Linked DNA regions of Homo sapiens: all the other regions are linked to region 2. Evidence: fine-mapped expression QTL. A gene starts in region 2. Each other region holds a variant in brackets. All regions are shown on one strand. Distances are from middle to middle.

Evidence for each region.
Region 1: its variant is fine-mapped to the expression of SRBD1 in whole blood (TOPMed, PIP 0.99).
Region 3: its variant is fine-mapped to the expression of SRBD1 in whole blood (TOPMed, PIP above 0.99). The same link has a PIP of 0.9 or more in blood mononuclear cells.

Annotation. Positions count from the first base shown.
Region 1 is chr2:45,563,312-45,574,105 of GRCh38, forward strand. SRBD1 (S1 RNA binding domain 1) reads right to left here. Exons shown (of 21, transcript NM_018079.5): 9 at 9,896-10,031. It also overlaps the pseudogene RN7SL414P. Among named protein-coding and RNA genes, the nearest start is that of SRBD1, 43 kb to the right of the region's middle. The variant T/C (reference allele first, on the strand shown) is at 4,720.
Region 2 is chr2:45,606,954-45,617,747 of GRCh38, forward strand. It overlaps SRBD1 (S1 RNA binding domain 1), which reads right to left and starts at 4,314. Exons shown (of 21, transcript NM_018079.5): 1 at 4,266-4,314. RefSeq lists an enhancer at 3,965-4,134.
Region 3 is chr2:45,541,316-45,552,109 of GRCh38, forward strand. SRBD1 (S1 RNA binding domain 1) reads right to left here. Exons shown (of 21, transcript NM_018079.5): 12 at 9,810-9,967; 13 at 6,207-6,297; 14 at 5,417-5,524. Among named protein-coding and RNA genes, the nearest start is that of SRBD1, 65 kb to the right of the region's middle. The variant A/G (reference allele first, on the strand shown) is at 5,057.

The DNA.
Region 1 (10,794 bases), 44 kb before region 2:
AGCAAGTAGCAAAAAAAGAATTTAAACTTCAGATCAATCTGTCCATGCTCTTAATTAAAATATTAAAAGAACGACTGTCTTAAAACACATTAAAAACACTCCTTAAAGTATAAACAAAACCAAAACAAGCAGAAGAAAATAATAAATAATAGGGTAAAAATAAAATAGAGAATAGAAAAGCAATAAATATCAACAAAACCATAAGTTGGTTCTTTGAAGATATCAACAAAATTAACAGACCTTTCGCTAGACTAATCAAGAAAAACAACAGGAAACACTCAAACACCAAGATCAGGAACAAAAGAGAGGCCACTACTAAGGACCTTATAGAAATAAAAAAGATTATAAGAGATACCATGAGCAACTGTATGACAAATTAGATAACTAAGATAAAATGGACAAATTCCTAAAAGATACAAACTACCAAAAACAAACCAAAAAGAAACAGAAAATCTGAACACACCTATAAAAAGTATGGACACTGAATTAGTAATTTGAAAATTTCCCACAAATAAATGTCCAGGCCCAGATGGCACCACCATTGAATTCTACCAAACATTCTAAAAAGAATCAATATCCATTCTTCACAAACTTTCCAAAAGATATTAGAGAAGGAAAAACTTCACATATATTTCTATGAGGCCAGTATTACTCTGATACAAAAACCAGACAAGACTTCACAAGAAAACTACAAACCAATATCTCTTATGAATATAGATGTAAAAATCCTCAATAAAGTAATAGCAAACCACATCCAGAAATATATAAGAAGGATTATACACCAAGATCAACTAGAATCAATTCCAGGAATGCCCGGTTGATTTAACATCTAAAAAATCAATTAACCTAACACATTATATCAATAGAATAAATAACAAAAATCCTATGATCATCTCAATAGATGTGGAAAAACATCTGACAAAATCAGGTAGCCCTTCATGATAAAAAACACTCAAAAAACTTGGAAATATAAGGAAAGTTCTTTAATATGAGAAAGGGCTTGTGCACAGAAATCTCACAGCTAACATCATATTTACTGGTCAAAGACCAGGAACAAGACAAGCGTGTCCACTCTCACAACATTGTACTGAAGGTTCTAGCCAGGGAAAAGAAGGGAGGCCATCTATATTGGAAAGGAAGATGTAAAACTTTCTCTATTTGCAGCTAACATGATCTTATATATAGAAAATTCTAAGCAATCCACTACAAAACTATTAGAACTAATAAAGAGTTCAGCAAAGTTGCAGAACACAAGCTCAACAAATAAAATTAATTTATACATACTAGCAATAAACATTCTGAAAATAATTTTTTTTAATTCCATTTATGATACCACCAAAAGGAATAAAATACTTAGGAATAAATTTAACAAAAAAAGTTCACAACTTACACGGTTGACCTTTGAACAATACAGGTTTAAACTGCATGTGTTGACTTACACGTGGATTTTTTTCAACCAAACAGGGATTGAAAATACAGTAATTGCAGGATCTGAAACCCACGCATAAGGAGAGCTGATTTTTCATATACATGGGTTCTGCAGGGCCAACTCTGGGACTTGCATATACATAGATTTGGGTATATGCAGGGATCCTGGAATCAATCTCCTGTATATACCAAGGAACAACTGTACTATGAAAACTACAAAACATTGTTGAAAGAAATTAAAGAAGATCTAAATAAATACCCATGAACATCCCATGTTCAGGGATCAGAGGGCCTAATATTGCTAAGATGGCAACACTCCCCAAGTTGATTTACAAATTCAGTGAAATCCCTATCAAATCCCAATTGGCATGTTTTGTGGAAACTGGTGAACTAATTTTAAAACACATATAGTAATTCAAAGGACTGAGAATAGCCAAGTCAATTTTTAAAAATCAAAATAAACTTGGAAGATTCCCACTTCCCAATTTCAAAACTGACTACAAAGCCACAGTTATCAAGACAGTGGGGACTGGCATAAGGATAGACATACAATGGAATAGAATCGGAGTCCAGAAATAAACTTATACATATAGTGTCAACTGATTTTCAACAAGGGTACCAAGATAATTCAATGAAGAAAATCCAATCTTTTCAATAAATCATGAATAACTAGAACTCACCACATGCAAAAGAACAAAAGTGGACGGACCCCTACTTCACGCTATACATAAAAATTAACTCAAAATTGATCTTAGACCTTAATACAAGAACTAAAACTATAAAATTTCCATTAAAAAAGGAGAAAATTTTTATGACCTCAAGTCATAAAGCCTTCTTAGATATAACACCAAAAGTGTAATCAATAACAAAAAACTAGATTGAACTTCAACAAATTTTAGTTTTTGTGCCTCAAAGAATAGTATCAAGAAAGTGAAAAGAAAATGCACGGCATGGGACAAAAATTTTTGCAAATCATATGTCACATAAGGGTATCTAGAATATATTTAAAACTCCTACAGCTCAACAATAAGGAGACAAAACCCAATTTATTCATTTATTTATTTTCTTAAGAGATGGGGTTTCACCATGTTGGCCAGGCTGGTCTCGAACTCCTGACCTCAGGCGATCCGCCTGCCTCAACCTCCCAAAGTGCTTGGATTATAGGCGTGAGCCATCGCGCCTGGCCACAACCCAATTTAAAATGTACAAAAGATCTGAAGAGGTATTTGTTCAAAAATTATATACAAATGACTGATAAGTACATGAATAGATGCTCAGCATCATTAGAGAAATGCAAATCAAAACACAAAAAGATGGACAATAAATGTTGGGAGGGATGTAGAGAAATCGGAACCTTCACAAACCGCTGGTGAGAATGTAAAAATGGCATAGCCACTCTGGAAAATATGGCAGTTCCTCAAAAGGTTAAATGTAAAGCTACCATATAACACAGCAATTATACTCCTAGGTATATATCCAAGAGAAATAAAAACATATGTCCACACAAAAACTTAGACACGAATGTTCATAGCATTATTCATAATATCCAAAAAGTAGAAACAACCAAACTATTCACTGACTGATGAATGGATAAGTAAAATGTGGAGAATCCATATAATGTAATATTACGTAGCAATAAAAAGGAAAGGCATACTAATACATACCATAACAGACAAACTCTGAAACCATTATGCTAAGTGAAAGAAACCAGCGGCAAAAGTCTGCATATTGTATGATTCCTTTATATGAAATGACCAGAACAGACAAATCTATAGAGATAGAAAGTTGGCTGCCTAGAGCTTGATGCAAGGAAATATTTGGGAGAAAAATGTCCTAAAATTGCTTGTGGTAATGGTGACACAACTGAGTGAATTTACGAAAAACCATTGAACTTACAAAGTTCTAATGGTTGCATTAAATGCAATATGAATTTTACTTCAATAAACCTATTAGAAAATTAAAACACTCTTTTCTTAAAGCACTCTTTAATACCAATTATTAAGATGATAAATAGTAACACAAATTAACCAAATAATTTAATCAAGTTAACAGCCTCCCTTAAATATCTGCTAGTCTGTAACTATATATTTATGTATATTATATATTAAAAATTAAACAACATCACTTCAACATATATTCAGATTTCTCACTAATTCTTAATGGCTTTCTTCCAATTACTCTTAATGAATGGGATTTTAATAAACTAAGTTCTCCCTTTACAGGACACAAACTGATATTTTAACAATTTTAGCACATTTCCATGAGGATCTCTAACAAAAACTTAGACTTCCTATCTGTGGTGAAACAAGCTTAGAATAATTCAACTTAATATTACCACAAAATAATTCTACCACGAAAATTTCTCAATTTGTGCTTCATGTTGAAAAGAATGTCAAAAGATAAAACGCGTATTTTTTTGTAACTTTAATTTAAATTTTAAAAATATTGAGTAAAATTTTAAATATCAAACAAATTGTCAGAGTTTTAAAAAAATTATATAGGGGACTTTTTTCTTTTCTTATATACTTGAGAAATTTCTAAAGTAAACATCAGCAGAAATAGAACAATCACTTAGAAATAAATGTTTCGGCTGGGTATGGGGGCTCATGCTCATAATCCCAGCACTTTGAGAGGCCAAAGCAGGAGGACTGGTTGAGCTCAGGAGTTCAAGATGAGCCTGGGCAACATGGCGAAACCCCAACTCTCAAAAAATACAAAAATCAGCCAGGTGTGCTTGTGCATGCCCATAGTCCCAGCTCCTCAGGAGGCTGAAGTGGGAGAATGCCTTCAGCCCGCAAGGCGAAACTTGCAGTGAGGTGGGATTCTGCCACTGCACTCCAGCCTGGGTGAAAGAGCAAGATACTGTCTAAGAAAAAAAAAAAAAAGTAAGCTTACATAAAACAATATATTCAATAATACTGCACAGAACTATCTATAAAGAAATAAATTGTGAATACAAAATAAACTTCAGTTTGAGCTCAGCAGAGACTTCCGTATTTGCTATAGGCTGTGCCAGCTTAGTAAACAGAAGTTCTTCATACAAGAAATTTTCTCTAATAAATTAAGTAGAGTACAACAATATAGAGGAGAGTTATTTAATTCCGATTTACATAAGTATACCATAATATCACAATACATTATTGGAGGTTTTTTGCTCTTTTTCACCATACCTAGTAATGTAATACGTCAAACTTACAAAAAATCCTGACACACAGGAAGACCCATGGTGGAGAAGGGAATAAGGTAACAGAAATAATAAAGCTTGGGACAGAAACTGAAATTGAAAGTGAG[T/C]AGTGGGTTAAAGCGGAATTACTGCAGATGGTGACATTGAACAGGAAATAGGTAGTTAAGACACAGGAAATTGCACGTCAGTAAAAAGACACACCAATAAAGATAAGGAACAGAAAGTCCCATGAGAGAATGTGAAGACTGAGTTACAAATTCATGTGGTAGAAAAGATCACACTAAGGACCAATTTGAAAAAGAAAGAAAAAAAGATGCAGCTGGAAGAATTTACTAAGCAGCTATTAACGGCTATTCCCACAGTACTTGGAGAGAGTTCCACAGTAATTTTCCTTCACCACACTGTCTTTCATCATTTGCATTCATTTCTGTGTTCTGTGATACTGTGCTGGGGTTATCTACATAAAGGCTGAAAAGTAAGGTTCAGATTTAGGACATGAGGTCTCAGCACTATAGGAATTGGGAAGCTGTTTTTGTAACCTAGCATATCATCACTCCGGCCTGTACATGATAAACTAAAAAGTTCGTAAAACAGCAGTGCTGTTTTTCAAAACTGACATTTCCAAAATGCTCTGCTTTCCCAGGCCTGAATACTGTCACACCCAGAAGCCTGTGTCAATCATAATCTTAAATTCAGTCACTAACTCAGAATGCCACATTTGCTACACACACTAGTTAAAATGCAGAGCCCAATAAAATATTTTCAAGCAGAAATTAGAAGGCTAGGTTTTAACAGAATAAAAGCATTAATGTTTTTCCAAAGTTGCAATAAAATTAAATCAACATAAAAGGTGGACAAAATAAGACAGAAAAACTACTTCTGCAAAAGGAATGTTAGTATACTTAGTCACTGGTACTATTAAAAATTACTTTTCATTATGTTATACCTGTATCAGTAGACTATAATAACTACGTATGTAAAATTTCACTGTACTTTCTTTCAAAATATTGAAAGTATGTACTTCACCTGATGTGGTAAATATAGTGTACACAAAAGTAAAATTGACAATTTTAGATATAATAGTGAAACATTTCAAATCTTTAAATGGGCAAGGGCCATGTTACCTCTACACCCTAAACAGGACCCAACATAAAATAACCTTTCAGGAAATACTTGTGGGATAATTCACACTCTTCATGTCTTGTTACAACAAAACAAAAATTTTTCACATCTGTGTCATCTTAAATGAAAAACAATTACTTTTTTATTTTTTTAAGAGGCAGGGTCCCACTGTTGACCAGGCTGGAATGCAGTGGCTATTCACAGGAGCAATCCCACTACTAATCAGCACAGTTTTGACCTGCTCCTTTTCTGACCTGGGCCAGTTCACCCCTCCTTAGGCAACCTGCTGGTCTCCCGTTCCTGTGGGGTCACCATATTGATACTAAACTCAATGTGAACACCCAATCGGCATAGCGCACTTCAGCCCAGAAATCCTAGACTCAAGCAATCCTCCTGCCTCAGGGTCCTGAGTAGCTGGGACTACAGGCATGTGCCACCATGCAAAACAATTACATTCTTAATGATGAAAATTAAGTATTACATGAAAGGTTAGGAATACTAGTTTTTTTTCTATTATTCTCTCTTTATAGCAGTAAAATGCAGATAGGAAGAAAAATAAATTTTAAAATTATTTATTGAGAAATTCCGCGTTTGAAAAACACTGGCAGTTTCCTAATTTCAAATCTCCCCCTTCCTTTCTCAAAAAACTATAAAACCAATAAAGAAAATAAATAAAACACAACATAGGACCCACCTCTTTGCATTTCTAGGAGACAGAGAATTATACTGGCATCAGATTTCTCAAATATAACATACAAAGGAAGCCAACAGCAGAGCAACATATTCAAGAAACTTAAGTAAAGAAAATGCAAACAAAAGTGATTATACCATGCCAAGCTATCCTTCAAGTGTTAAGGCCATAGAAAACAATTTTGAATGTGTAAGAACTCAGAGAATATTGTACACATATACCTTTCTTCAGACATTCACTAGAGCAGAAGTTAGCAAACTATGGCCCATGGGTCAAATCCAGCCTGCCACCTGTTTTTGTGAATAAAATTTTGTTGAAACACAACCATGCTCATTCATTATGCATTGTCTATGACTGATTTTGTGTTACACAGCAGTTGCGTAGTTGCAACAAAAGCCATCTGGCTCACAAAACCTTAAATATTTGTTCACTGGACCTTTACAGAAAAAGTTTACCAACTGTATACTAGACTACAGAATAAGTTTCATTCACTCTAAAGGCTTTGGAAAGCTCTGGCAAAAGGACCAAGGGCAAGCATTTAATATAATTGTAGGGCTGAGATTAAAACAAGAGTAGGGAGAGTGGGGTCAATTTCCTTTAAGAAAGCACAGGTTGCAAGGCAATCCTAATACCAAAGCAGACTTCAGGATAAAAAGCATTAAACAAGGTAATAAAGAAAACTTTATATAACGTTAAAAGCCACACTCCAGCTCTGGAATAGAATGAGGAGTGTGCGATACTGTATTTTAAAGACGTTGTTAGGAGTGACATCACTGAAAATTGTGGAGTAGGGAACTCTAAATTCCATCCCTCCACAAAGGTAACTGGTAAGGTAGCAAAAACTGTCAGAATTAACTTTTTCGCAACTATGGAATCTAATAAAAATTTTATAACAACGAAAGAAACACAGAAAGAAGTTGCAGAATTTCTATAAGAGAGCACTTTTAACGTACCCCAGTCTCCAGCTCAGCAGTGGCCTCTGAAGATGACAGCCCACGTTCCTAGGGCAGGTTGCAGAAGGAGCAATATGGACCTTATTCTCAAATAACTATGGTTGTGTGTTTTGATGTCTGGTGTGTCCCTGAGGAACTGACTCAAGGGCTTGTCTTTATTTCACATGCCTTGGAACTTACTCAGGACAGAAGAAGCCTCCCAGGTGGCCTTTGTCAAAAGTACTTAAAGGCAAATATATTAGCCCCAGCCATGAGGGGTAAGGGATAATACAGGAGCAACTAACACAGAGAACAAAAAACCTGTGAAAAAATAAACTTGGAAATGAGATATTTGAGGGAAAAGGGGCTTTTTAAAATTCCTGGGCATGCTGAGGGCTAGGTGTATGCTCTGAAAAGATCTGAGGGAACCTTAAGCTTTCACCTCTAGATGAACTTTGGGCTCCATGCAAACAGGAAGAAAAGGCTACGGCAGAGCTGTTAATGGCCTCACTAAGTGTTGAAGGAGTGCCCCAACAAAGTGCCAATCTGCAAAGTCTGGGAGAGTTTGGGTTTTTTTCTTTTAGGGGATTTTTTTCTTTTAGGGTTTATTTTGTTTTTGTTTTTGGCTCCAGGCATTTAGGGGAATCTCTGTTAAATAACTAGATGGTTACTAAGCTAACAAGGGAGACCTCAGTGGCCACACATAGCAAACAAAATTTACAAAAATACTTAGAAAAGTCACTAGAGCAAACCAACCCCAAAACAAGCAGCAACAACAAACAGGGGAGGGGAGAGAATCTGATTTCCAGAGTTACCAAGTTATAAAATACAACATATCCAGACTTTACCAAAAAAAAAAAAAAAAAAAAAAAAACTGTCCATGAGGAAGCTTAGACATTGACCTTACAAAACAAAGATTTTAAATTAACTCTATTCAATATGCTGAATTCAAGAAAATCATGAACAGAGACCTAAAGAAAGCCAGGAGAATGATCTTTCAACCATATAGAAAAGTAAGAGTTAGAAATTATAAAAAAGAACAAAATAGAAATTACGGAGCTGAAAAGTACAATGACTGAAATAAAAATGTGCCAGGGGTTCAACAGCAAATTTGAATACAAAGAATAAATCAACAAGCCTGAAGATAGGTCAAATGGGAATATACAGTCAGAGAAAAAAGAAAAAAATAAAGAAAAGAAAGCAACAGAGGCTGAGACCTGTGAGACACTATCAATCATACTCTCTACATATAATGGGAGACCCAGGAGAGGAGAGAAAGGCGCAGAAAGGATATTTTTTAAAATTATTATGAAGAATTTCTTAAGTTTGATGAAAAACATTAATCTACACGTCTAAGAATCACAATAAACTCCAAGTAGGATAAACTCAGAAAGACCCATGACAAGACACATTATAATCAAACTGTCAAAAGATAAAGACAGAGAATCCTGAATGCAGCAAGAGAGAAGAGACTTGTCATGAATAAGGCATCGTAAGATTAACAGCTGATTCCTCATAAAAAACTATGGAGGCCATACCATAAGAGTGGATGGTATATTTAGTATTAAAAGGGAAAAATTAAAAACCATCAACCAAGAATTCTATATTTTAAAAACTCTCTATAAAAAAATGAATGAAATGTTTAATGGGCATAGAGTTTCAGTTTTGCATGATAAAAAAATTGCTGGAGATTGGTGGCACAACAATATGACTATGCTTCCCATTACTGAACTGTATGCTTAAAAATGGTTATGATGGTACATTTTATGTTATGTTCATCTTACCACAATTAAACATAAATTTTTTAAAAAAGGAGAAATTAAGATTTTCCAGAAAAACAAAAACTAGGAAGTTTGTCACTAGTAGACCTGCCTTACATGAAATATTACAGGAAGTGCTTCAGACTGGAATGAAAGGGCACTAGATAGTAACTTGAAGCCATACAAAGAAATAAAGAACACTGATAAATGTCATGATATATGTAAATATAAACGCCAGTGTTACTGTATTTTTGGTTTTTATCTCCTTTTTGCCCTATGTAATTTAAAAGCCACATTCCACAATGTAGATATAGCCTACGACTACACTTAGGAAAAAAAATTAGTAAACTGAAAAATGAAATTAAAACACTGAGATACAATGACTGATTTATATAAGTAAATGAGACCTCTCACACTTTATTCTAAATCAGATATCTCATATTTGTATTTCACAGGGAAGAGATCCAGAATTGAGCTCAAATATAAGGATACTGGGAAGCAGAGTCTAACAAAAAGATCACCAGCCAAAAAGTCAAGATACCTAAAATGTTATATTGTCAGCTCTGCTAATAATTCTCAATGTCACTTGTTAACTTCTCCGGGTCATTACTTCCCAATTTGTGAAGCGGCAAGGATATGACAATATTATAAGAATTTATATAAAGAAAAAAGAAAACAGTTGACATAAAATTATTTAAATTCTTAGTAAAGTAGCAGGCAAATCCAAAATATTATCATTATTACGAAATCAGCATGCACATGCAGTTTCTTTATTTACCTGATGATGGTGAATGTTTCTTATGTTGCAGGAAAAATGCTGGTAGAGCAGAAACTTATCAACATCTTTCTCATTTACCTTTTTTGAGGATACTTTTGCCAGAGATGACTGGATACAAACATGTCTCTTCTGGCACCTGTTCAGATACACAAGTGTTCAAAAAACAAGCAGTTATTAATTTGTGCTTTAGTAAAGAATATATAGAAATAAGGATAGCAAAAAAAGTTAAGCCATTACCAAGTGAGTTTTTTTAATGATGCCCAGCTATGAAATTGATATTACTACCCCATCAAAAGGACTCTTTGCCTATTCATACTAGCATAGTCCTCCAGATCTATTTATATATCTACTCAATCTTCCCATAAAATGCCTAAATGAATTCAGAAACCATCTGCAATTATGCAAAAGATCAAAACTATCTATAGAAATCAAACCAATAGCTCTGATCTAAATATCAGACTTTTCTAATCACTAAGACAGTCACAGTCAATTAAAAACTTAAAAAAAGAGAAACAAAAGGATGTGTCAGGACAGCTTCCAATAACAATTTATAATACTGAACCAAATTTAAGTGGCATAATTACTTATAAAAACACATTTTAAAACCTGAGCAATTATTTTGCTTCAACTCATTCCTGCTGGAGCCACTGAGAAAATACAAAAGTTCTTTCTAGCAACAGTAGTCAACTAGGTCATCTCCTCCTTTCCTCTCCTCTGCACAGCTCAAACAGCTAGATATGTGGAGGGAGAGAGAGGAAGAACAAACCTCTAGCAGAAACCTGTCTTCTGATACACAGCAGAAAAAGAACAAAATAATACAAAAATAGGGTTTTTAATTAATGTGTTTTTTTAATGATGCATAAAATCCATAAGCCCAAGAAGGCTCTAGGTCAAAGATC
Region 2 (10,794 bases):
TTGTCACAAAAGGGAATATGTTCTCCCAGCAGCTATAGCTCAACTCAGTCCAGTAAGTACACAATGATTGGGCAAAATAGTGCTCAGAGGGAACCAAAAGAACAACAGGAAAGCAGTCTGCAGGAAGTAGACAGGATAATCTTCCATCTTTCCCTTCACTCTCTTTTTGGCATATTAGGTTATAAAGATCATCCTTTCTCAAATTAGTATTTTTTAGACATTGATCATGAAAGAACAGGTAATTGTGATTTTTATATTATGTGTATCTTACCACAACAAAATAAGAATGGAGGAAGTTAGTGTATGACAAGGGTGGCATTTAAAATCAGGGCAGGGTAAAAATGGATTATTCAATAAATGGTATTGAGACAACTAGCTATTCCTCTAGAAGAAAAAAAGGAGTTTAATTCCTACCTCCACACCATTAACAAAAATTTATTCCCCAATAACTAATAGTTTAAAATGTACAAATTAAAACTATAAAAGAACTAAGAAATAAAGGTGATTCTTTTCACACTATTGAGGGGAGATGGGGAAATGGAGGTTTTCCTAAATATGACTCCTCAAAATTCCAAAACCAAAAAGACTAACAAATTGCAACACATAAAAATTAAAATCCCAAGCCAGTAGTGGGAGCATATGAGAACCAAACCAATTTACCCTGCAGTATTCTAAAAAAAAAAAATTCATATGAAGCAGTAGCTGATACCTTTGGAATTAAAGGTGAAACGGGTTAGGGCTGTGTATAAACTGACAAAGGAATATCTCTAAGTGTCCTACCTCACTTCATGCTATTAGGCAACTGCCCCAGGAAAAAGACTGTAAGTTTATTCTCTGGAGAAGGTATTAATGAAACAGTCTAGACTGTGGGCATGGGAACCATACAGACTGAATGCTAAAGGCAGAGAACCCTAGTCTTCCGCCACTAAATTCCTAAAATACTGCCCTCTAGGGAGGAGAATGGGAAGGCTTTTCTCTGGAGAATCTAACCAGTCCAAGAGTAAAAACTTGAAGGTGCTAAGCTTCCCATCAAACAACCCACCCAGATCACCTTACAATCACTCCTACCACCACATTCTACAATATGCCTGAATTCAGAACATTCCCACACAGACTACCATATACTAATTCTATCTCCACACTTCAGCCTTAACAGAAATGTGTTTAAAATAGGGACAGGCAAACCCTTGGCAGGCTTATGTTTTTGCTTAACCATTATCCTTAAAGAAGGCTCCCCTAAATCAAATATTTCCAACTGCCTCTTTATAAGGCACCCCGAAAGCAATATACCATGGAAAGATGAGTGAGTTGTAATATTTCTTTTCACAAATGTTAAAAATATCAATGTAAAAGGAAAGGTGGGAAAGCAGAATCTGCATGAACACACAAGCCAATTTCAAGCAGATCAGATTTAGAAAGAATATATACAAAAGCTGAAGACTTGGAAATTATGTCTTTAAAACTACCTACGACAGGTACACCCCCAGGAGTATGTATTCTCCAGTTTAAACACCAATATTCTTGAGGCCTGTTTCTCCATCTCCACTACTCCCATATCCTCTTACTTTGTGTCATAAAACTTGTTAGATTAACCAAAACCTCATCCATCTCCACGGTTTTACATACCGATGTCACCTACTTATTAACAATCCTAATCCCTCCATCCCAAACCGTGCCTTTAACATTCAGATTTCTATAATAAACTGCCTGTCTCTGAAACTATTTAGATGTCTCACAGTTAACTTAACACATCCACAATGGAACTCTTGATGACCATTTCTTGCTCTAAAACCTGTTCCTATTCCAGTCCTTCCCATCTCAATAAGTGGCACCCACCTATTTGCTAAGCCAGAACCTTGAAAAAAAAAATTTTTTTTTTTTTTTGAGACGGTCTCACTCTGTCACCCAGCCTGGAGTGATCTCAGCTCACTGCAAACTCTGCCTCCCAGGTTCAAGCAATTCTCCTGCCTTAGCCTCCTAAGTAACTGGGATTACAGGCGTGTACCACCACACCCAGCTAATTTTTCTATTTTTGATAGAGACGGGGTTCGTCACGTTGGCCAGGCTGGTCTCGAACTCCTGGCCTCAGGTGATCTGCCTGCCTCGGCCTCCCAAAGTGCTGGGATTACAAGTGTGAGCCATGGCGCCTGGCCAGAAAATTCTTTAACAGCTTCATTGACATATAATTGACATGCAATACACTGCACATGTTTAAAGTGTGCAAATTTGATGTTTTGACATATGTATACATATCACTACAATCAAGAAAATGAACACATTATCATCCTCCAAAGTTCCATTTGCTAAGTCAAAATGTTACAAATCTTTTTTTCTTTCATCTCACATATCCAGACTATTAGTAAGTCACATAAGATCCTCCTCCAAAATGTCTTGAATCTCCACGATCTTCAGTGAGCCTTTAGTCCTCAACCTCCCTCACTTGAACTACCACACTCGCCTCTTAACTGCCCTCCCTACTTCCACTCTTGCCCCTGCAACTCATTCTCCACTTATCAACTCAAGATCATTTAGAATATGCTTTAGAAACAACGAATTACTTCCCACCCCATCCTTCACTTAGAATCAAGCCACATTTTTATGAGGCCTTTGAAAAGGCCCTGTCGGACTGAGCCCTGCTCACCTTTCTAACCACCTTTACTACTTGCTGGAGCTCCTCAGCTCTTGTCATAACATTCTTTCCCACCTCAGGTACTCTCTGCCTGGAGTATTCTTCCCCCTGCTTGTCAATTGGCTGGCTCCTTGCATCCCTTAGATCTTAACATTTCAGGCCTAAAATAGGTTTCTCAATTATATTTTAAAAGGAGCCTATTTACTTCCTGTATACAGTAGGTTATAACACAATCTGTAATTATTTTTATTTTACTTGTTTATTGCTTGCACTGCTGTCAAGAGAGTAAATACCATGAAAGAAGGAAATGCATGTGCCTTATTCACTTCCATATCATAGAACCTAGCACTTAACAGATGCCCTACAACTATTAAATGAACATAATATGTACAAATATGGTCTCTACAGAGGAATATACATTTATTTTCCACCACTCTTAGGCAATGCCACACATTGCATTCATCTCTTTCTGAAGAAGTGATGGCACATAAGAATATTCCTATTCTTCAGTGACTTGGGATTTTTCCCTCCTTTCAAACTATCTTAATCACTGTAGGCACATGAGCATATTCCAAACCAATAATTTGGAGGTTGCTATGATGTTACTAAGGGAAGAGCCACTAAACTAGGACGACTGCAAATCAGGACAAAGGGGCAAAAGGACGTGCACACTAACAAATACTAAATTAAAATTGGAAAAAAAAATTTAAATTCAAGAAGGCAAACAAAGGAGGACAATTTCTTAAGAAGCACCTAAACAAGTTTCCATGAAGGACCAACAGAGTGCTTGAATGTTAGCAGATTCCCAAGTCACAAAAACAAAATACTAGAGCTGAAAGAACCTGAGATCAGACAGTCCCGCTATATTCAGAAATCTGAGACCCAATGAGGTGAAACAGTTTACTCAAAGGGGAAAGATATGTGGCAAAGGACTATAGCCCAGTGCCTGGAACACCAAGACTAGTCTCGTTTCCCATTCCACACACAATATGTTAATGACATGTCACGTGAGGGGTTCGAGGAAAGTTGCCTAGAGAGTTCCCAATTCATTCCTTTCCTCCGGTTACTGAGCGCCTCCTACATGCCAGGCGCACTACAGAAGGTGCAGTTGATTCAGACAGGGCCACCATGACCGTGAAAAGGGTGCTTCCTCTCCCACCTCCGATAATTTTAGGTATAAAAACAATCCAGGTAAATTAGCCGGGTGTGATGACGGGCGCCTGTAGCCCCAGCTACTCGGGAGGCTGAGGCAGGCGAATGGCGTGAATCCGGGAGGCGGAGCTTGCAGTGAGCCGAGATCGCTCCACTACACTCCAGCCTGGGCGACAGAGGGAGACTCCGTCTCAAAAAAAAAAAAAACAGGCTTGCCCAGGCTTTTCTATGTCTGTTATGCGCTAAGAGCTGCAGCAATTTGGCTGAAAAGAGGTGTCACGAGGTAGCTAGGAGGGGTTTTCGGGTGGTCGGTTGTGAGAGACCGCTGACAGTAAAATGTAATGAACTTCTCACTTTTAAAAAAGGGGTGTTATTGCCCAAATGAGCGCTCAGAACTTTTTTAATGGCCCCAAAGATCCCGGAGCCCGGACGCCGGGCTCTTGAGAACCCGCAAGACGACCGCCAAGGCGCACGCACAGCTCACCTTCCCGCCCGGCACGTCAGAAGACCCGAGATTCCGTGAGTGCCACCGCACCTTCCGGTTCCCGCCGGAAGTTTTTCAAACGCCAGAAGGTCCGCCTCGCTTCTTCCGGACCAAGTTAGCCACAGACCTCCAAGGCGCGGCGCTACCGAACGGGGCGGAGCCAGGCTGGACGGAGGCGGGGCTAGAGCGAGGATCCCGAGGGAGCGCCGGGGTGGGGCTGGTTCGTAGAAATGAAAAATGACTTTTTTTTTACGTGTTATTTACCAAGAACACTAAACTCTTAAGCCCACAGATACAGCCAAATAAATTAGATTATAAAAGTAGGGAAATAAGGCTGCTGTTGTCTACATTCGAATTTAGCAGATCAAAACCCCATGGATTTGTTTTAGAAAATTCTAAAAAGCAGCTTTCCACTGCTAATGACTTATTTCCAGGGACTCTGAGTACTGAAGAGCCTAGCAAGTTATTGAAATGACCTGTGACCGTGCCTTGTTGCAGATCTACCGGAAGTGAGCATAGATTTTACTGGATAATTTTTGTGATTGGGGGAAAAAAAAAAGGATTCTTTCTAAATTTAGTAAATCTAATCTTCTATATCTGAGATTGTTGGCCAGGAAAGATCAGTTTCCGAGATTGTTTAGGGATTTTTTTTTCCTTTTAATTAGCACAGTCGTATGTTGCCTTTAGTGATGGTTCCAGAAGGCCTAGAATTGTCTACTACAATCACAGTCTCCTTCACAATTTATGGTCCTGAAGAAATACTAGAGAACACCTTACCGTTCAGGATTGTGGGAAGAGAAACCAGATCATAGAAATCAACAACAATAATGTACTACTTACTATTCACCTACTTTTGATGTTGCATTTGCTACTCAGGTTTATGGTAAGGGGTTGTCTTGGTCAATTTTCTGCTGCTGTAACCAAATACCATAGACTGGTAGATTTATAAAGAAAGAGATTTGTTTGGCTTGTAGTTCTGAAGGCTGGGAAGTCCAAGACAGAGGGCATTATTGTTGTGTCAAAATATGATGGAGGGCATCATACTGGGGTAGGGGTGGGGGAGGCATGTGAACCCAATTGACTCCCGAAATAACTAACCCTCCTGTGATAATGGAATTAACTCATTCATGACCTAATCATTTCCTAAAGGTCCCACCTCTTCATACTATTACAATGACAAGTTTCAACTTGAATTTTTGAAGGGGACATTCCAATCATTGCAGAGGTAGTAAGGGTAAAGGTGAACTAATATACTGCAAAGTCTTTTGACATAAGTCCTGCCCTGGAGGAATTTACGACCAAGAGTAGGAACCAGATACAGCCAGAGGAAACAGACACCCAAGCAAAACAGTCTAGCTTCAAGGGTTGGGTATGCAGGTAGTAGCCACACTACAGTGAGGAGGAGAGTAAGAGTGGGCCAGCAAAGCATTGAAGCTTGACTTTCCTCTCCCCACAAGGGATTTTTGCCTTACAGCTGGGGAAGAAAAAAAAAATCACAAAAATAAATAGCCTGTTAAGATTTTAGACATCAGACATCTGGGGAAAATAAAATCTGAAGCAGGTTCTCTAAAATTAAAGTATGTAGGTAGTGGCCTACTCTAAAGGCCAATAAGGACTGTCCAGAGAATATTTCCCTTGGAATTCTATAAGAGAGTCACTCCCACTACACGCTGTCAAGGAAAATTTGTAATCACTTAAGTATAAAACAGGCCCTCCCACAAAAACTGCCTTTTCTGTCTAGGACATTGCCCAATCTATTGTTTACTTTTGGATCTCAAGTGCTGAATTCCAAGAAATTCATGGGTTTAGACTGAAAGCCTGGAATAATCCGGACACCCACCTGAGACTATGCAATAGGGTTTGGGAGTAATGAAAACATGTTTTGGATTTGATGGAGGTTGTTTTATCCCTCCAAAGTATATAGCTCTTCCCATGATATTCACTGATACATTATCATTTGTATGTTATTATCTGTTTTCAAGTCCTTCCCCTATGGGTTCTAGCTCCCCAGGGCAAATGTAATAATAATAGTAATAACTTACCTTTATTGATTACTTACCTGTGCCAGGCACTAAGTTAATGCTTTTAGATGTATTTATGTATATAATTCACATATTACCCCAATGCAATATTGCTATTAAACCATTTTTATAAATGAGAATACCAGGTATAAAGAAGTTAAATAATTCATCTAAGGTCACATCAGCTAATAAATTGTAGATCTGAGATTCAAATCCAATAATCTGCTTTACTCCAAAGCAAGTACTCTGAAAGGTATCCACATACAATTTGCTGTCTATCCACAGGGGATTGGTCTGAGGACCCCCCACAGATAGCAAAATTTACAGATACTCAACCAATCAGTGATAGAAAAAGTTGGCCCACCACATCTGCAGGTTCCATATCCATGAATGCAGATACAGATGGCCAGCTGTACCACAAACTCAAAGCAAAGACCTTTTCTCGCTCCACTATGGTGGCCAGTGAGACTCTCAATGTTTAAGGTGCTCCAGAACTGTCGAATCTCTAAATACTCTAAATAAAGTACTGTCTAACCACCTGAAACATAACAAAGCTATTCTCTCTATTGGCCTCAAACTAAGTTTCATAAGAACAAAAATTCTTAATATATTAATAGATGCAACTGTTTCACCTACTAATAGATATTTGGATCTAGGAACTAACTCTTGGTAATTTTTTATCTCCCCCTCTCCAACTTCTCCCTCCACCTACACAGTGCCTAATAATGCTTAACATATAATAGGTACTCAATAATATAGTAGACTAACTCCTGGACCCAAAAACATGTCTAAAGTAAAAACAAATTTTCCTCCCCTCTCCACCTTCTCCCGCCACCCACACAGTGCCTAATAATGCTTGACATATAATAGGTACTCATTAAAAATAGTACACTAACTCCTGGACCCAATAATATGTCTAGAGTACAAACAAATTTCTCTTATGAGAAAAGTAAGTTAAAGCTCTTGACACAGAAGGTGGGTTGCCATTTTAAAAATCAAGTGTACTTATGAAAATTCAAACATTTTATCTCTGAGAGTCAATCAGTGTGATGGTTAATTTTGGGTGTCATCTTGACTGGATTAAGGGATGCTCAGACAGCTGATAAAACATTACTTCTGTGTGTGTCTGTGAGAGTATTTCCAGAAGAGACTGACATTTGAATCAGTAGACTAAGTAAGGAAGATCTGCCCTCACCCAATTTCGGTGGACACTATCCAATTGGCTGAGGCCCAGATAGAACAAAGAGGAAAGGAATATTTTCTTTCTCTCTCTTTTGGAGCTGGGACACACTTTTTCTCCTGCCTTTAAGCATTAGAACTGCATGTTCCTTTGGACTCCAGGACTTAAATCAGTGTACCCTCTCAGCCCCATGTTCTCAGGCTTTTGGCCATGCAGTGAGAGTTACACCATTGGCTTCTCTGGTTCTGAGACCTTCAGACTTGGACTGAGCCCTACTGCCAGCTTCCCTGGCCCTCCAGCTTGCAGATGGCCAATCACTGGACTTCTCAGCCTCTATAATTTTGTGAGCTAATTCCCTAAAAAATATTCTCATATATCTTTATGCTGTATTTATTACACAAACACACACACACACACCCTACTAGTTCTGTTTCTCTGGAGAATTCTAATACAACTAGCAAAGGCAAAAATGATAATAATAATGGCTGTTTCAGATTAAAGAATGAGCAAACAAACTGAGCCCTAGTTCAAAAATTTGCATATTTAATTAGCCAGGCATTGTAGTGGGCACCTGTGGTCCCAGCTACTCTGGAGGCTGAGGCAGGAGAATCGCTTGAGCCCAGGAGGTGGATGTTGCAGTGAGCCAAGATTGCGCCACTGCACTCTGCACTCCAGCCTGGATGACAGAGTGAGACTCTATCTCAAAAAAAAAAAAAAAAAAAGTATGTATTAGCTCCTATCTCCCCTCTTTTCCCACTGTCAGACGTTCTTATTCCTAAACACTAAAGCTCTTTGGCTTCAATGACCTTCTCTGACTAATTCAGCCAGAAATCTGGAGATTTACTGCAAAATGAAAGAGACTAGTAAACAGAGAGGGGCCTACTTCTGTTTCCCAAATGAAAAAGGAGTTTCTTATTAGTGAGGCTGACCAGGCTGGTAGGTGGGTTCTCAAATTTGGCCTGTCCTATTAACTCTTTCAATCTAGCTGGGAACAGCAGCATGACTCCAAAGTGCTAGACTAGTGCTGATGCCATTGTTCTAGCCAGAGTAACTTTGTCAGTCTTTCTTATGAAAGAGTAAAGATTCAAGAGATTAAAACCTGAGTCTTTATTAAATATTAAATGGATCTGGAGGAAGCATCAGTTAAGGTTGAGGAAATTAATTGTACAGATTTGTCAAGGAATTGGAATCAAAGGGATTGTATACATCAAATTTATCTCACACAAAGTAAAATTATGGAAACTGCATATTGAAATACAATATAATTTGTATCTTTAGGTGAAAACTAAAATGTTCAGTGCTTTATCCTACTTATTTTGTACAAATTCCTAAGGTATTTTGTAATGAATGCAGTTATAAATAGGATTAAGACCCATAAAAAACATAAATAATAGATGAAATACCATATCTATTGCATGGTCCACTCTTCCACTGATCACTTACCTTGCAAAGTCACTGGCTAAGAGGCATTCAATTGGTTGCAATCATGAGCAAACATATTGAAATTTTTTCTCCTGTTGAGTTTCTCATCAGTAGTGCTCAGGGACCATCTCAAAGGCCTAAAATATCTATTAAACAGTCTGAGATCCAAGTATGGAAACCCCAGAGGGCTCATTAAGATCCTGATGATGCCATGGCTGGCTGGGTTTCAAGGAAGGGATAAATGGCAGCATAATGGGGCCAGATTTATTTTAGTCAAATCTGGACTAACCACAGGTAGCCATGTCTGGATACTGTAATTCAGAACTAAATATTATATCTAGTACCATTGGTCCATCTTCCACCTTAATAAATTGAAACTATCCTGCAAAGTGCTTGCTTGAAACATTCATCTAGGAATGCATATTGTCAGAATTTTAGTACTAGAGCCTTCACACACTGGAATTCAAATTCAGAAAAGCATGGTGTGTCAGATCAGTCTATGTCCAAATTTGTGTGTACTATTTTTTTAGTCAGGTTTATTGAAGTATAATTTACATAGAGTAAAAGTCAGCTTTTTTATTCTTGCAAACACATATAGTTGTGTAACCATCACCACAATCAAGATATAGAACACTTTAATCATTCAAAAAAATGCCCTTTTATAGTCAATCTTTTCCCCTTCCACCAGCACCTGGCAAACCACTGATCTGTTTTCTGTTCCAATAATTTTACCTTTTCCAGAATGTCTTTATTAGTCCATTCTCACGCTGCTATGAAGAAATACTTGAGACTGGGTAATTTACAAAGGAAAGGTTTAATTGACTCACAGTTCTGCATTGCTGGGGAGGCCTCAGGAAGCTTACAATCATGGCATAAGGCAAAGGAGAAGCAGGCACCTTATTCACAGAGTGGCAGGACAGAGTAAGTGTCAGCAGGGGAAATGCCAGACGCTTATAAAACCATCAGATCTCATGAGACTCATTCACTATCATGAGGACAGCAAGGAGGGAACCACCCCCATGATCCAATTACCTCCACCTGGTCTGACCCTTGAAACGTGGGGATTATGGAGATTTGGGGGATTACAATTCAAGATGAGATTTTGGGTGGGGACACAGCCAAACCATATCAATATTATATAAATGGAATCATATGGCATGTAACCATTTGAGTCTCATTTCTTTCACTTATTATAATACATTTGAGATTAATGCACATCATTGCATGCATCAGTAGTTTGTTTATTTTTATTGCCAGTTAGCATTCCATTGTGTGGGTATACCACAGTTTGTTTATCCATTCATCAGTTGATAGACTTCAGTTGTCTCCACTTTTTGTCTGTTATGAATAATGCTGCTATGAACATCCATGTACAAGTTTTTGTATGGACAAACGTTTTCATTTCTCTTGGGTAAATAAACACCTAGGAACAGAATTGCTGAGTCATAAGTGTGTCTTTAGTTTTTCAAAGTAGCTGTATCATTCTGCATTCCCACCAGAAATGCGTGAGAGTTCCAGTTGTACCACTTTTTGCCAGAACTTGATGCTGTCAGGTTTTTAAATTTTTTGGCATCCTAATGTGTGTATTTCATTTCCCTTATGACTAACAATTTGTATTAGTAATGCATTTATTTGCCATCCACATATCTTCTTTGGTGAAGTGTCTGTTCAAATCTTTTATTTTTAATTTGACTTTTTGTTTATTGAATTACAAGAGTTATTTATATATTGTGGATACCAGTCCTTTGTCAAATATGACACCTGGCTTTAAGAGGTGTATGTTATTACAGGCAACTGCTGACATAGTAGCACACAGAAAAATGATTCCTTCGTTGACCACAAAGAAAACTTTACTATGGCCAAACGTCCTTCAAGAAGCTAGCTGACAGGTGAAATCAAAACCACC
Region 3 (10,794 bases), 66 kb before region 2:
CTGGCTTAGGGAGCACCTAGGTCTGGGCTCCCCAAAGGGCTGCAGCTCTTTTCTCCTTCTCAAGGTCTGCAGCATGGCAGGCAGGAGGGCATGTTTCAGCCCTGTTTGTGTTACAGCTGTTTCAGATCCACCATTTGGTGGAACCAGAGTTCTTGTCCCATGTCCAAGAAGAATGAGGTATGTGGACAACTGGAGGGTGAGCAAGGCAGAGAGGAACTTCACTGAGTGACAGAACAGCTCTCAGAAGACCCAAAGCGGGCAGCTCCTTTCCGCAGGCAGGTTGTCCCAATGAGTGTCTAGCTCTCAGCAGAGAGGAGACCCACAGTGGGTAGCCCCTTTCTGCAGGCAGGTTATCCCAATGAGTGTCCAGCTCCCAGTGGAGAGGAGATGGGCAGTGGGTAGCCCCATTCTGCAGACAGGTCTCCTGACAAGTGTCCAGCTCTCAGCAGAGAGCAGACCCAAAGTGGGTGGCTCCTTCCCATAGCTGGTAGTCCCAACATTTGTGTCAGTCTGGCTGAGTCCAGGGTTTTTATGGGCTCAGAAGGGAGGAATGCATGCTGATTGGTCCATGGGCAGCCATGGGCATGTCTGGAAAAAGTACCATAAGTTCACACTCCCGGCCACAGACTCCACCCAGAACTGGCAACCTGGCCTCCAGACTTCACGTAGGCCCTGGCTTGGAGGTGGGGGTTTCACTGAGACCTGCCCCTTGCTGCACAGGAATGTCTGCCTCCCACCATCAGCATGCATCCATGGTGCATGGGCTGTTTGTGCCAGGGGACACCTGTAGGCCTGTGCCAAGCTGCCCTTAGCCATCACCCCACCCCAGCCTCACTCCTGTGTTGGTTGGTGCCCAAAATCCTGAACAGGCTGAGGCAGCAGGGGCTGGTGTCAGCACTGCCTCGAGTGCAGGCACACCTGTCCAGGTCGCAACAGTGCCTAGGCTCGGCCACAACTTTGCTCTGTTCTGGAGCGGGTGCTGGGAGCAGGGAGAGGCCAGGGAGGTGGAGCAGGTACTTCCGAGCCTGCAGGGGAAGGGGCATCGCAGGCCCCTGAGAGTGCAGGGATGCCCAGGTCCAGAGCTGTAGCTGGGCAGCTGCAACTGCGCCCAGGAGCATGGGGCTCCTCTGCCCCACTAACCTGGTAGGAGGTGGGGCTCCCATCACCTGTGGAGCATGCAACCCAAGCCACAACTCCCCTGCTGCAGCCAGTGTCTTCCCAGCAGCTGCTCCAGATGGGCTGCCACTGCCACCACTAGAATTCTGATACATTGTTGGTGGGAAAGTAAGATGGTACAACCATCTTGGGAAAAAGCTTGACAGTTTCTTAAGTTAAACATGTACCGTATACCATATACCACACAACACAGACTTTCCACACCTAGCTATTTACCTAAGAGAAATGACAGCATATATCCATACAGACTTGTAAATGAATGCTCATGCTGCTTTATTGGTAGTAGCAAAAAACTAGCAACAACTCGAATATCCATCAACAGGTGATTGAATAAACTAATTGTGATACAGCCAAACAATGAATACTGTTCAGGAATAAAAAGAACCACTGGTTTCTGCAGCAACAAGGATGAAATCTCAAAATAATCATGCTCCATGAAAGAAGCCAATAAAAGATTATACACTGTATGATTTCATTATGTATAAATCTAAAAAACACAAACTAATGTATAACTACAAAAGCAAAATGAGTGCCTACCATATGTCAAAAGATTGAAAACTGCAAACCATTCTAGCATATACTTTAAACAAATGACCCATAAAACTGTAGAATTTTTCACGAACATTTTCAACTTTCATTTTTTCATGAACATTTCAACTTCAACTATCACAATTCAGTATGTGATAACTGAGACTCAGCATGGTTACATTCTGCAACTTAACTCCAGTTTAACTTTTTGCTCCTTTGGTAATTAGAATTTGCACCTTTGGATGACTTGCCCCCTAATATGTGTAAGTATCATGATTCGTAAGGTATTTTAAGGGTAGGGAGAGAAATGAATGAGAGAAAAGACAGATGAATGGGTCAGGTTTCCTGGGGTTTATGAATTAGGATATATATCATGGCATTTGTTAACCTATGGCAGCATGTCAGGGCAAAGAGTGTTGGAAGGAACAGATAAGAGGAAATGTGCTGGTAGATATGGCTGGAAAAGGTTTTTCAGGATGAGTGGCTGACAAGATTATAGATTAACCTATCAGATTATCTGTTCAGAAGGTATTAAAAATGGCTGCCAGAGAAAGACTGGAGATTTCAATTTCAGTGTAACTTCAAAGTGTAAGATGAGAAAACATGGTTTTCTCAAACAGGCACTTTGAATTGGCAAAATGATAATAAAATGAAATTAAACAGCTGATTTTTCTAAAGCACTTGCTATAAATTCCAATTAGATATCTGCATCATTTAAAAACTTCAAAAGCACATATTAGCAAACAAATGCAAAAAGTACATTAAAAGACTAATACAGTGTAAGTAGAGTTAAATCAGAACTGCAAAAATGGTTCAACTGTAGAAAATAGCTACCATAATTAACCACACGGGTAGATTTTAAAACCCAAATAATTATAGCAGAAAGGAGAAAACAGACTATAGGAGAAAGACTACCATCCAAAGCAAGTCTTAAATTGCAACAAAATGGGGCTCTTCTGAAAGAAAATGCCTAATAGAGACTATATTCATAAAAGTGCAAAGAAGGCACCAAAGATCCTGGCTAATACGGTGAAAACCCATCTCTACTAAAAACTATAAAAAAATTAGCCAGGCATGGTGGCGGGCACCTGTAGTCCCAGCTACTCGGGAGGTTGAGGCAGGAGAATGGCATGAACCTGGGAGGTGGAGCTTGCAATGAACCAAGATCGCGCCACTGCACTCCCGCCTGGGTAACAAAGCAAGACTCCGGCTCAAAAAAAAAAAAAAAAAAAAAATTTATATTAATGGGGTCTCCCTAAACTCAAAGATTAGCCCACACTTAACATATTTACTACAAATAGCCTTAAAAATAGGAGATACATAACACATTCCATTTTAAATCTTCACAGTGGTCAATGGTGCTAACAGGTAAGTAACATTTCCAAAGATGAAGATGCTAAAGCTAAAAGAGGATTAAAACTATATGGCTAATCAGAGGCAGTAGGTGGCAGGCCTGAACCTAGGTCGTCTCTATAGCCCACATACTTCACTTCATACCACAGCACCTATGGTGAGGCTCAACTAAAATGGCATCTAATTCATATCCATTAATAAGACTGAACATCTCATGATACCACAATACATAGATTTTACACAAGTACGATAGACATTATTACTATCCAAAGTGGTAGATTTTACTATCATCCCTATTGCATCAAGGTGAAAATAAACTTTATGTAAGTTTATTAATTTGCATAAGAAAATACTGCATCTAATTTCACAGCACTTTTAAAGACATATAATTTATATTTATAATAAAAGTACGTATATAAACAAATACAAACACACTCATAAAAAAACATATTGTTTATTAAACCCTTAGTGTTTTAATTTATGTTATCTCACTTTTAATACTGTTAAAAAACCTGTAAGGTAGGTATTCTTTTCCCCATTTTAAAAATGAAGGAAAGTGAAGCTAAGAAAGGCTAAGTAACTCTTCAAAACCTACATAACTAGTAAATGATTAAAACAAAAGATGAGGCCGGGCGCGGTGGCTCATGCCTGTAATCGCAGCACTTTGGGAGGCTGAGGCAGGCGGATCACGAGGTTAAGAGATCAAGATCATCCTGGCTAACACGGTGAAACTCCATCTCTACTAAAAATACAAAAAATTAGCCGGGTGTGGTGGCGGGTGCCTGCAGTTCCAGCTACTCGGGAGGCTGAGGCAGGAGAGTGGCATGAACCTGGGACACAGAGCTTGCAGTGAGCCAAGATTGTGCCACTGCACTCCAGCCTGGGTGACAGAGCGAGACTCTGTCTCAATTAAAAAAAAAAAAAAAAAAAAAAAAAAAAAAAACAGATGAACCCAGATTTGTCTGACCCCACAGTTCATCCTTTCCTTTCTAATAGTACATACTGCCTAAAGTTCAATAAAGGGATATTCTATAAGCAAATGAAGAAAAAACTGAAGACATCTTCACTACTTAATATTTTTTATGATTTGAAAGTTGTACTTATAACCACTACAAATGTATGCAAGATATTTACATGAAATTAATGTGAACAAGTTAAAAAAAAATCAGAGAAGGTACCTGAAATAAACTGAACCAGCTACATCAGTGCTTGTGTTAGTTTCTCAAAAGGACTGGGTGCACGTTTGCAGTTCCCAGAATAGGGAAGATCCACCGTATTTCCCAGGCCAACTTAAATTACAACCAGAGAAAGAGGGAAAAATTCTGCAGTGGATGTTTCAATCTGTTTCCTTCTTGAATCATGATCCCATGGCACCTATCGGTTTGTTCCTCACCTTCTCTTACTCCCCTTGTTACCCTGAGTTTGTTTTTCTGACTGACTCTGACTACACTCTTGGCACTCTTGACTATAATAACTGCCTGGCCTTTACCTTTTGGCCTACCTACACAAATCCTAGAATTCTTCCTGTGTTAGGTTTTACTTTCTGTTACTTTGTTGATCCTGTCAGTCACCTGCTCATCAGTCAACCATTCTTTTAGTTATTAGTTTTCTCACTAGCAGTGGGAGATAGCTCTTGATCACTTTCTGTTAAATATCAGCCATTATAACTACTCTCTCTCCTAGAATTAAATCCTTTAGGACTTAATATTCTACTATAGTTTGGAAAAGGAAGACATGACTATTGAGATCCAAAGAGGAAGTAGGGAAACAATGGTGAAAGAAAGCAGAACTACTACAAATGCAGGGGCAAGACTAGAGAAATTGGGTCTTTCTAATCCAAAGCTATTCACAAGTTATCTGTATGCCTATATGAAATAAAAGTTTGTGACCAAGGGATAAATGAGGAAAGAATACTGGAAATACTTTTTAATTCATAATACTTACCTTGGCTCTCAGTTCTGAAGGGTAATGATTCATAGGCTTCAAAGCTTTGGGAGAA[A/G]AAGGCTAAGTTATTCACAGTCTACTAGCTGCTAGCCTGGTACATCATTCTACTTATTATTCAATAGTTAACTAGAACCCTCACACAATGTATAGCCTAGAAAATCCAATGAAACTGAGCCCTAACGTGCTGCTTCTGTAAGAGGTTTCTGGACTCTGTCCTGCTCTAATCATTCCTGTCTCAAATTTCTCCAAGAGTCAGACACTTTACATTATCCTGCAAAGTTCTCATGAACACCAAGAGGTGGTCTGGAGGGCAAAGAAGATGTACATCTTAAAAAGAGAAGGGAGGATTCATCACAAAAGCAACTTTAAAGTTCCCATGCTTCTCCAAGAAAAGAGATATATGTAATAGCCTTACCAGTAAACAACATCCAGTGGTGCAAAATAATTCTTCATTATCAGGTCAGCAAAGTAAGCTTCTGTTTCCCTGCAGGCAGTTCCATTTCCAATCACTACTGTGCTGCAGCTTCAAGGCAGAAACAGAATGACAAACTGAATTTCAAGGCATGCTTTGAAATCAGCTGGAGAAAATGTACAGAATGCACAAATACTATTATATGATTCTCTTATTCTCTCATATATACAAGCAACCTGTCCACTGTTGCATAAGGAAAACACAGACTTATATGGAATAAAAGACACTGCCCTGCATTTGGTATAGGAGGCAGCAGAGAAGTATTTTACTGTCACACTATCTCAAAAAAGTCAGCTTTCTTCCCATCAAGAAGGAACCAAAATCAGAGATAAGTCAACTCTGGAGCATTCTAAGCCATCTAAGCCGTAATAAAGATATTATGATTAAATTATATAATATATTGTCAATTTCTGAAACTTCTAACTATAACCACATCTATTCCTCAGATGGAAAGAAGGCAGGGAGAGAGGGAGAAAATTGGAACAGAAGAATGAACTGCTCACATCTGCCCATATTACCTCCTTTATTTGTAATGGTGGCAAAGGAAGGGAGCAGCGTTTCTCAAGTCTCCACATGCAGAGTTCTCCAGCAATTTGCCCCAGAACTGTTTTATATGGTTTATTGTCTCTCACAAAGGCACCTCCCTTAATCCCTCCCTCCAAATTAGGGGCTTCAAAGGTATCTCTGGTTGACTGAGCCACTGATATATTCAAAAGATTACTTATTTTCATACTTGAAATTCAGCAAAAGTGTCTTTATTTTCTCCGCCTCTCGGAAGCCTTGTCCACAATGCAAGTAAACCACATCAGTATGAAGTATCTGACCTTTAAAAAATGAAAAGAATAAGCCATTTTATAAGAAATTACAAAGTGAAACACATGAATGATTTTGTTAAGCAAGTTGTAACAGAAAAGGAGACTGGCTTGTTTTTTATAATGAAGTCTGAACTATTCATATTCACTAAATCAGATTCTTCCTAACCTCTCTGAAGTATTGCTCTTTCCAATTTCACAGGATTCTGTTTGCTACACAAAACTACTATTAATTGGAGAATATGCTAGGATACCTAAAAGAAAAATGGTTTTCACTAACATCTAACATTAATAGTAGCAAAAGCAAACACTAACTGAATTGTTAGTATATGTCAGACACTGTTGTGAGACTATCCTATTTCTTTTTTTCTGGTTGTAGATACATGACTTTATTTACCTTGTGCATATTTAAGACTTATGAGCTTTTCTATATTGCATTATAAAGAAAAATATTTTTTATTGAAAATATTTATAACAATTAAATTTAAAATAATTAAAATTATTTTGATTAAAAGTATTTTTTAAAATTTGAAGATAACTACCTAAAGAATAAAACTGAGCTAAGAGACTAACTTACAAGTTAGGAAAAGAACAGCAAAATAACCCAAAGAAAGCAGAAGATAGAAAATGTTGAAGTTAAAAGCAAAAATTAACAGAAAAAAATGCAACAGAAAAGATCAACAAAGTGTAGTTACAAATCACTTAAGAGAAAAACATACTTTTAGCAATACCAATCAAGTAAAAGAAAGGATAGAAGATACAAATACAGGAATTATATTAGGAATAAAAAGAAGATATAACTAGAGATTGAACACAGGTTTAAAAGATATCTACCATTATAAACAACTTTATATTAAATTATGAAAACAGATAATTAGAAATATCTTACCAAAACAGCTTAAGAATATAGATGTGTTTGTGACATTTTTAGAACAATTATCCTATAAGCAATACAATAACTGAAAACTGATCTAACAACACACCCAAAAGAAAGTATCATAACCAAGTTCCATTAATCTAAGGAAAGTGTGACTTGACATTTTAAAAAATTCTAGTAATATAATTAATCACAGCAACATAGTAAAGGACAAAAGCCACATGATATATGAACAGATGCAAAAAAAAAAAACACTGATAAAATATATTTCCCACTGGCTGTAAAATGAACAGCATAAAAAGACAACTAGGATAACAAAAACAAAAAGTCACGACTATATCTAGAACATAGATAAAATATCCCCACAAACCCCCACCCTCCAAAAAAGCAGGTGGGAACAATGTACTGACAAGACACCTATGCATCAGCATCTGCATGGAAGGAAGCAGAAAGAAACAGTGGAATATATGATGGAACTGAGAACAGGAGAATCCCAAAAATGTCAAAGGCTACTTCCCTGGAAATCTCAACAGTCAGTTTGAGAACAGGAGCTGAAACTGAGAGAGATTCAGCACAAAGGGGATCCAGTACTTCTGAAAGGATTGGAAAACACTGATCCCTATGAACTCTTGAAACTAACTAGTAAAAGATACCTTTAAAGACAAAAATTCCACACTGAGGAGAAACAATTGGTAATCACATTCAAACTGAGCAAAGTAAAGATAGCAACAGCAAAGGAAAAAGAAAGCCCAGATAAAATAAAGGAAAGCAACAGAGAAGCAGATTCCAGAAACTATAAACTATCTCTCAATCCACACAGAGTTTTTTTTTTTAATGATTTGGAAAAAACAGAAGAGCAAGTTCTAGAGATATACAGTGAGAACAACTTGCCTGACCCAGCTTCTACTAAAAGTTCAAACTAACGTATGTAAAACTAAACAAAAGAAATGCATGATAGTCAAATTCTATATAGAATGATTATTTTTTTAAGCAAAAAAATTTTTAAAAGACTAATATAATGTCCTTACAGAAAGATGTGCCTAATGTATGAGAACAAGCTTCTTAAAAAAAAACATTACAGAAAATAAGAGTAACGTTAATTCTGGCTCATGCTGGTAATCCCAGCACTTTGGAAGGCCAAGGCAGGCACATAGCTTGAGCTCAGGATTTCAAGACCAGCCTGGGCAACATGACGAAACTCCGTCTCTACTAAAAATACAAAAAAAAAAAAAAAAAAAAGGCAGGCATGGTGGTGCGTGCCTATGGTCCCAGCTACTCGGGAGGCTGAGGTGGGAGGATAGTTTGAGCACAGGAAGCAGAGGCTGCAGTGAGCTGAGATCACGCCACTGTGCTCCAGCCTGGGTAAAAGAGCAAGACCCTGACTCAGTAAAAGTTAAATAAATAAAAGAATAACATAAGTCAAAATTAGAAAATCTCAGAAATTAGATGAGATAAACTGGGAATGAATTCGAGATGAAAGAAAAAATTATTTCAGAAATGAAAATCTAAACTTAAAAAATTAAAATAGTAAAGGCTAATAGAAAATAAAACAAGAAGTTAAAAGATCAAAAACATTAGAAATAAAGAAGTTCATAGGGAGCTATAACCCTATTTTTCAAAGTATCAAATGGAAATTCTAAAACTGAAAAACCAACCACTTGAACCCAGTAGATGGTTTTAGTAACAAATTAGACATAGCAGGATAGAGGATTAATTAACTTAGATGATCAACAGAAAATAAACAAAAAGGAGAGAAGAAACTGAAAGGTATAATATGTATGTAATTGGAGTTCCAGAAAGAGATGCTAGAAGCTCCACAAACCCTAAGTGGAATTCATGCAGAAAAGAAAAGACAAGAAAACCCATACATACACACCCACTGAAGCACATCATAAGAAAACTGAGAAACACAAAGAGAAAATCTTAGCAGCCAGAGGAAAAGGACATATTACCTTCAAAGGAACAATAACAAATAACCACAGTTTGGCTGACTTCTCAACAAAAATTACAGTAGCCAAAAAAAAAAAAAAGAATGACATCTTTAAAGTACTGAAAGTAACTGCCAATCTTGAATTCTACACCAAGCAAAAAATATTCTTCAAAAATGAAGGCAAAACAGAGATGTTTTCAGACAAACTAAAACTAAGACAATGTGACTCATTAAAAGTAATAGCATAGAGTTCTTCAGGCAGAAAGAAAATGATCTCAAATGGAAGCACGGAAATGCAAAAGAAATGAAGAATATCAGTGTAAATGTAAGTAAACAGGAAAAAAAATTGAGCAAAACAATAAAAATGTCTTTTGGTATTTAAAATATAAGCAGAATTAAAATGCATCATATATAAATGCATCACAATAATAGAATCTGATGGGGAATTAATAGAGTTCAAGTCCGAGCCTAATTAATCCTCAATATCTCTACTGAGATATAGGAAGCATATAAATGATAGTTGTATATTGAGGAGTTTGATCAACAAATGAGAGAAAAATGAAGTTTGATTATCTGGTTCCCAACACCCCTGTATGTGAGAAAACCACTTTTTAAGCCTTTAAAATTAACATTATTTCCAAATCCTCATGAAATGTATGAAGTGAAACTTATAACCAACCAAACAACTTTTACATGGAAAATTGCAAGACAACTTACTAGTAGGAGAAATTATAGCTAATTTGCAACCATGTTTATAACCAGGATCCACTCCCATTAAGGTGCGCCCTGGAACAGGGCTTGTTAAAAGGAGCTGACGAAGGTTCCGTCCAAACATCATTACTGATTCCTTCTCTGCATCTGATGTTAGTTTGGCTCTTTAGAAATAGAAGAAAAGAAAAAGTTTTTCATTCACCCAAATTTTCTTTCCAGAAAAGGAGCAGAATTCATTTTGTACAATTATTTCTCAAAGGATAATTTATTATAACAATATAACTTAAGAGAAAAATATACAAAAATTATATTGAGTCTATTTTCACTAATCACAGTAATATGATACCACAAGCAATTCTGAAGCAAGTCTTGTAAGTTTATCATACCTACATTACCTCTCTATCTGCTCTCTACTGTATATAAAACCCATATTTATAAATATGTGTATATGTGAGAAAGACAGAGAGTGTACGCACATTTGAATGTCACATGGGATGCAAACAAAAGTAGGCACAGTGGGCAGGGAGAAAATATCCCGGACAATGGAAACAGCATATGTAAAGGCTCATGGCTCATCATAGAAACAGCAAGTAATTTCGTATGCTAAAGTAAAAAGAAACAGCGAGACAGAAGTAGAGGCAAGAAAAAAACAGATCACAAAGGGTCATGCATGTTCTTCTCAAGAGCTTGGATTCTATCCTGGAGACAAACAAGATCAGCTGAAAGAAGTATACAAGCATGAAATTGTGAGATGAGAATTTTGAAAGGGCGATTTGTAATATGCATTGGAAAAGACAAGACAGAAGACCAAGATCATCTATGACGCTAGTTCAGTAATCCAGACAAAAAATGATGATGTCCTGAATTAAGACAGTCACCACGGAGATAAAGGGGAGGAAAAATTCAAGTTATAATAAAAGATGGCAAAATAGATAGCACTTTGTAACTGACAATGTAGAACTGATGACAGAGATAGATGTGAAAAATGACA